Linked DNA regions of Homo sapiens. The protein of the gene in region 1 interacts with the protein of each later gene in a pairwise test. Each region holds a gene or a part of one and is shown in the gene's direction. Other genes may lie near its edges. The genes, in order: SHISAL1 and TMEM140.

Region 1 (3,814 bases):
TTGGGAGTGTGGATCTATGGATTTTTCGTGTTGATGCTGCTGGTTCTGGACCTTTTGTATTACTCGGCAATGAACTACGACATCTGCAAGGTCTACCTGGCACGGTGGGGCATCCAAGGACGATGGATGAAACAGGACCCCCGGCGGTGGGGGAACCCCGCTCGGGCCCCTCGGCCGGGTCAGCGGGCCCCACAGCCGCAGCCTCCCCCAGGCCCGCTGCCACAAGCCCCACAGGCCGTGCACACATTGCGGGGAGATGCTCACAGCCCACCGCTGATGACCTTCCAGAGTTCGTCTGCCTGGTGAGTGGCTACAATTGAGACCCAGAATGATTTGGGTCATTGTCTTTGGAGAGCTTGGAGAATACGCCATCACTCTCGCCATAGTGTTTGGCTCATTGGTTGCCTGATTGTTTGCTTATCTTGTTGTTTGCCAAGAAAAATTTCAAACTGTTATGGGTAGCCTACAACACATGCCTAGACAGGAAAGTCAAAATGAGAGGTGGAAACAGAGCTTAGAAGCAAAGCTTGCAAGCTCATTGCGCTTAGAGCCCAGTGTGAGAGAGGTAACCACTAAACATTTAGTGGAGTTTTGGGTTACCTAGCTGCCAAGGCAAAGGGGAAAACCGGATGGCTTTTTGAGTTGTAAATCTGGCCAAAGGAAGCAAATCAGTCTGTCCAGCCAGATTTTTCAGCATGAGGTTAGAAAATACAAATGTTACTTAGTTCCTTATGTGTACATGCCTTGTATGGCATGAGGGGTACTAGTTCTGACTCAGGCAGGCTGTGAAGGAAGGAAGGAAGGAAGGAAGGAAGGAAGGAAGGAAGGAAGGCAGGAAGGCAGAGAGGTGGCATCTCAAGGGTTGGCCTTGTGGGGTGGCTGCCCCAGGGTTATGTTCAGATCTGAGCTTGTCTACTGCAATTCCCATTTCCGCCCAGTTCCAGTATGGTGGGGATGGGCCTGACCTAATCCCAGGCGGCCCTGGGTAGTGCAGCATCTAGAGTTGGAAGGGGAGAGGCAGGGTCTGTGCGTTTGGAGCAGGAACTCCCTGGGAGGCTGGCTAGCACCAAGGACAGGAGCCAGACTGAGGGTCGATTCCCAGGTCAAGGGCTAGAGTGAGAGGTTCGGATGCTCTGTGGGGGCTGAGCTGCAGCCATGGGCACACAGGGCTCAGGGCACGTCATCCAGGGACATCATGATACCAAGCCCAGGCTGCAAGACCCATCCCAGAGCCCCCTTGCTGGAGGGGTGCAGGAGTTTGCCGCACAGTGACCCCTGGGTTCATGTGCAGGAGCTTTGCAGGTAACCTAACCTGGGTCTGAGTCCCGGCTCTGCCATTTACCTGCTCCTTGACTTCGGGCATGAGATTTCACCCCTCTTAACCTTCCGATCCTCGTGAAGGAGGAGTGGGTAAGACTGCCCCCTCCCAAGGATTAACTGTGCACCTACCTGGCACATAGTAGGTCCTCAGTTAATCCTTGCTGCCTCCTCTTTGGAGGCAGCAATGACGTGAGTTAGTGATCGTTCACATAGCTAGCAGGTAGTGACCTTTTCAATTATTATTAAATAATTAATAAGATGCATAAATCAGCTTGTGCTTATCGATTGAATAATGACACCATCCATCACACAGGAGACAAAGACACAGCCCTGTGTGGCTCGGTTTGACAAATGCTGGCAGAGTGGGTCCTTGGGCAGGGGTTTGTGCCAGGCTCTGGGGGATGTGGAGGTGATGGGTAGAGAAGAAGCCAGCCTCCACCCTTGAGCAGTGGGGACTCCAGAGAGCTACAGACAATAAAATGTCTGTTGGCAGGACCCAAGAGTGGGGTGTTCTGAAATGTGGATCCTTTGCAACAGACACACCTAGAGGGTTTGTCAAACTAAAGACCCAGAGCCTACTGACCAGGCATCTCTGAGGGTGATGCTCATAGGCACTACAGCTCAGGAGGCACTGGAAAACGTCTATAAGAGCCAAGCTTTTTGATAGCTGAGAATCTTCCGTTTAAAACGGTGGTCCTCCCCCACTCCCGCACCTTTTGCATGCACATACATTTGGAATAAATAGCTCACACCTCGCCGAACACTTGCCAAGGGGATGGAGGATGTCGTGAGCACCCTGCACTCAGCACCTGGGTGCTGTTTTCCTGCCCCGGCCTCAAGGTCTTCCATTTCCTACGTCACTGTGCTTGCTGCTAACAGCTCCCCGATCTCATCCTGCCCAGAACGTTTTTGCCTGTCTCAGCAGCAGTTCCCACCCTACCCCTGTTCCATATTGCTTTTCCCCAACAAGCACACATTGTGCACCTGCTGTGTGCCAGGCACTGTGCTATGCCATCAGGATGCAGAGAGCTTGCCAAGCCTGCAGGGATTGTGCACGGAGCCTGAGTGGGCAGCTGAGCTCCAGGTCCAGGTGGGACACTTTTCCTTTTGGAGCTCAGAGGCTCTTCGTCTTTCCTGACCGTCCTGAGTGCAGGCTCAGGAAGGTGTTCCCATCACCCTGTGAGCGTGAAAAAAGGTTGTCAGAACCCACAAAGGTGTGGTGCAGGATAAGGGAATAGCCAGTCCCTGGCTGGATTCACGGGCACCGTCCCACTCCCGCTGTGCTCTTTGACACGCAGCGTGACTCTGGGTGAGGAGCTTCCTTTTTGGGCTTCAGTTTTGCCAGTTGAGGAACCAACGTGAGAGGGGATTTCATTTGGAGATCAGGGAGGAGCCTCCTTTCCTGCCACTCCAAGGTCCTCCCAGCTGTGTGACCCAGGACATCTCCAGCATTATAGCTCTGACTGTAACCCGACTAGGTCCCTGGTCCCCGGGTGGCCCAGCCTCCATGTGGTGTCCCAGTCAATGAAACACCACTTGGCACCCAAACAGCCATTACAAACGCCCTCTGCGGCCCTCCTCGGGCACACTGGAGAATGTCCAGGCAAGGAGTGTGGACCAGGGAGGTTCTTGAACACTCATCAGCCCCTGGAAAGGCTTCTGTTCCCCTCACAGCCCTCTCAGGAGCCTCCTGCTGAGTGCCGCTGCTCTTCAAAATCTCTCTTCACTTCTGCTTTCACCTCCAGAAGTCTCCTATGAGCCCAGCCTCTGTGGCTTCTCTGCCTTTCTCCCCTGCCCACCCCAGCTCTTTCTCCTGCGAATGAATCCAGCTTCTCCAGCTCCTCAGGGCTCCCTGTGCAGGGGCAGCAGGAGGAAGACAGCTGCAGACACACCCACATCCCCTGAGCTCCTGGAGTCTCCTAATGAGGCCAGCCACTTCTGGGGAGGCTTAGTGGGACCCAAGCAGTGGGTCAAGGACCACCGCAGGGGGGACAGAGACAGGAGGCCAAGGCACTGCCAGGACAGGGCAGTCAGGTGATGCCAGGGGAGGTGGAGGCAAGGGGCAGCTGTGCTGGGGGCCAGGACTGCCTCAGTGCCCAGGAGTTCCCTGCCCCTGGCTCCCACCCTGGCTGCTGCAGCGGGAGGGCCCACGGTGGGCGGGGAGCAGATCCCAGAGCTGGGGCAGAGGAGTAAGCTGGGCGACTGCTGGGCCCAGCCTCAAGGCCTTCGGCTCCCCAGCGGAGGCCGGCACAGCCTCCCCTCTCAGAAACCCCTTGGGTTTGGTGGGTGAGGGCCCCGAGGCAGCCCCCAGGCCACCGCTGAACAGCAGTATTGAAGGCCCTGGCGGCAGTGGCTCAGCCCCACACAGCCCCCGCCTCTTGGTCCCCACAGACACGCACTCCATCAATCATAAGAAATGTGATTTTCCTGCCAGCTGGCTGGGCAAAATCCAAGTGCTGCCGAATCGCGTGGCCAGGCAGGTGGGGCGTTGTGC
Region 2 (3,814 bases), on another chromosome or scaffold:
TAATGCTATAAACTTCCCTCTTAGCACTTCTTTTGCTGTAACCTGCAGGATTTAGTACAATGTGTTTTTGCATTCATTTCAAAGATGTTTTTAATTTGTCTTAATTTCTTCATTGACCCAGTAGTTGTTCAGGAGCATGCTGTTTAATTTCCATTATCTGTATAGTTTCCAAAGTTCCTCTTGGTATTGATTTCTAGTTTTATTCCACTGTGGTCTGAGAAGATACTTGATATAATTTCAATTTTTAAAAAGTTTGTTAAAACTTCTTTTGTGGCCTTACATGTGATCTATCTTGGAGAATGTTCCATGTGCTGACAAAAATAATGTATATTCTGTAGTTGTTGGGTAGAATGTTTTATAAGTCCATTTGGTCTAAAGTTCAATTTAAGTACAATGTTTCTTTGTTAATTTTCTGTCCCAATGATCTGTCTAGTGTTGTGAGTGGAGTGTTAAAAGTCCCCTACAGTTATTGTATTGCTGTCTACCTCTTTCTTTAGTGATATTTGTTTTGTTAATCTGGGTGCTTCAATGTTGGGTACATATATATTTAGGACTATTATATCGTCTTGCTGAATTTATCCCTACATCATTATACAATGACCTTATCTTTTTTCTTACTATTTTTAATTTAAAGTCATCTGTTTTATCAGATATAAGTATAGCTATGCCTGCTTGCTTTTGGTTTATAATTACATGGAATATCTTTTTCCACCCCTTTGTTTTCAGTCTATATGTCTTTATGGGTAAGGTTAGTTTCTTGTAAGCAGCATGGATCATGTTTTTTCATCCACTCTGCCAATCTGTATCTTTTAAGTGGAGCATTTAATCCATTTACATTCAAGGTTAATATGGATCTGTGAGACTTTGTTTCTGTTATATTGTTTATTGTTTTCAGGTTGTTTTATAGACTCTTTGTCTTTGCCTTTTTGACTTTGTGTTTTGATGAAACTCTGTCATGTTGCCATTTGATTCCTTTCTCTTCCTTTGTATGATTGTTTTATACAAACTATGAGTTTTATACTTCTGTATGTTTTTGTGATGGTGAATATCAACCTTTTGGCTGGGCATCGTGGCTCATGCCTTTAATCCCAGTGCTTTGGGATGCTAGGCAGGGGGATTAATTGATGCCAGGCAGGGGCATTAATTGATGGAAGGTGGTCAAGACCAACCGGGGCAAAATAGCAAGATCTTGTCTCTACAAAAAAATTAAAAATTAACCGGGCATGGTGGCACATGTCTGTATTTCTAGCTACTCAAAAGGCTGAGGCAGGAAGATTGCTTGAGCCCACGAGGTCAAGGCTGCAATGAACTGTGATTGCACTACTGTATTCCAGGTTGAGTGACAAAGCAAGACCCTCTATCAAAAATAATTAATTAAAAACACCATTCATTTCAGTGTTTAAGATCCTTTTGAGCATTTCCTGTAGTACCAGTCTAGTGGTGACAAATTCCCTCAGCATTTGCTTGTATGGGAAGGACTTTATTTCTCCTTTTATAAAGCTTATTCTGGCAGGATACAAAATTCTTGGCTGACAGACACACTGTTTTTTTTTTTCCCTTTAGCACTTTGAAAATGCCATCCCATTGTTTTCTGGCATGTAAGAATTCTGCTGAAAAGTCCTCAATTGGTCTGATGAGATTTGGGATTTCCTTTATAGGTGACTAGTCACTTTTGCTAATTTTAAAATTCTTTCTTTCACTTGACTTCAGACATTTTGAATATGCCATGGTGAGGTCCTTTTGCAATGTATTTTCCTGGGGATCACTGGGCCTCCTGTATCTGGATGTCTATTTCTTTAAATATGTTTTCTAAACTTTCTAATCTCTCTTCCCCCTCAGAAATACCAATAATTCATAAGTTCAGTTGCTTCTTGCAGTCCCAGACATCTCAAAGGCTTTATTCATTCTTTTTTATCCTTTTTTCCTCATTTTTGTCTGACTGGATTATTTCAAAAGTCCTGTCTTCGAGTTCTGAGATTCTTTCTTCTGCTTGGTGTAGTCTACTGTTGAAGTTTTTGAGCATATGGTGTATTTCCTTCAATGAATTTTTTAGTTCCAGAATTTCTGCTTGTTTTTATTTAAGATGTCTATCTCCTTGATAAATTTCTCATTTATATCCTGGATTAATTTTCTGATTTCTTTGTATTAGTTTTCAGATTTCTCTTGCACTTCATTGAGCTTCTTTAAAATCAATATTTTGAATTCTTTATCTAGCATTTTGAAGAATTCTCTTTGATTGGGATCTGCTGCTGCTGGACAGCTGTTGTGGTTCTTTGATGATTGTTACGGTTTGACTGTGTCCCCACCCAAATCTCAACTTGAATTGTAGCTCCCATAATTCCCACATGTTGTGAGAGGGGACGCCAGGGGAGGTAACTGAATCATGGGGGCTGGTCTTTCCCATGCTATTCTCGTGATAGTGAATAAGTCTCATGAGAACCGATGGGTTCATCAGGGTTTCTGCTTTTGCTTCCTCCTCATTTTCTCTTGCCACCACCATATAAGAAGTGTGTTTCACCTCCTGCCAGGATTCTGAGGCCTCCCTAGCCATGTGGAACTGTAAGTCCAATTAAACCTCTTTTTCTTCCCAGTCTCAGGTATGTCTTTATCAGCAGTGTGAAAATGGACTAATACAATGGTGTCATGTTTCTCTGCTTTTACATGTTTCCTGTATCCTTCCATTGATTTCTTTGCGTCTGGTGTAGCAGTTGCTTGTTCCAATTTTTTGAAATTGCTTTTATAAGGGAGAATTTTTTCCTGAGGATATATGCATGTTGTTAAGATGCTTTGACTTTGATTTTGGATGCCTGCAGTCGTGTGATCTTTCTATGACTTCTTCGGCATAGGGTCAGTGTTCTCTGTGATTTCCTCAGTGGGATAGAGTATGGTAATTAGCTGAGACTAAGTCCCCAGAAGTTTAGCTGGGACTTGGATGCCAACTGAGCAGCCTTTGGACCCCAGTGGTGGCAACAGTGGGGTAAGTGTGCCCTTTTTAGGCCCCACAGCAGCTTACGCTGCTCTGGTGGTTAGTGGGTCTTGGAGGGCTGATTCTTGGGCCTCCACATGGCTTGCTTAGAAGCTAGTAGTGGGAGTGGTGAGCCCAGTGTGTGGGCATGATCTCTAGCCCCTGAGCAGGTGGTGTCATGTGAGTGATGGCAGTAGCACTGTTGAAGCAGCCAACTGGGATCCAAGCAGTCCATGTTGGTGTTGCTGGAAGCTGTGATGGGTTGGGTGAGCTACTCCCCAGTCTCACAGCCACCTGTAGCAGGGTGGTGGGCACTGTTCTAAGTGTGCTTAGGAGAGCTTGGTCTTCCCTGTCCCTTTCCTACCAGGGTGGCAGCTGCAGCCACATTGCCTGATTGTTAATTCAGACTGGTTATGAATCAGCATTAAACTCTCAAAATGGTGCCAGCTGTGGGCTTGTGAACAGAGAAGGTGGGGCCCCTATCAGGTGAGCAGCATGGTCAAGAAGCTGTAGGGAGGGTGGTCTACTTGAGTCTCGGTCTCACAGCAACCCGTAGCAGGCACTGGGTATTGTCCTAGGTATGTGCGGGAGAGCATAGATTCCTTGTTTCTCCTTGACTGGGCAGCAGCTTCAGCCACATCAAGTTGAACTCAGCAAGAAGGTGGGGCACAGCCCAGCATTAAACTCTCAAAATGGCACCTTGGGCCTGTGACCAGGAGGGCAGGGGTCCCTCCAGGCAGGCAGCATGGGCAAGAAGCTGTAGGGAAGGCAGTCTGCTCACATTTCAGTCTCAACAGCAGCATGTTGCAGAGCAGTGGGTATTGACCTAGATGTGCATAGGACAGCCTG

What was found.
Region 2: the proteins of SHISAL1 (region 1) and TMEM140 interact in binary tests that used the Homo sapiens proteins (3 or more experiments, as listed by UniProt).

What each region holds. Positions count from the first base shown.
Region 1 is NC_000022.11:44,281,916-44,285,729, reverse strand, and holds part of SHISAL1 (protein shisa-like-1 precursor), read left to right. Parts: coding exon 1-302; intron 303-3,814.
Region 2 is NC_000007.14:135,154,489-135,158,302, forward strand, and holds part of TMEM140 (transmembrane protein 140), read left to right. Parts: intron 1-3,814.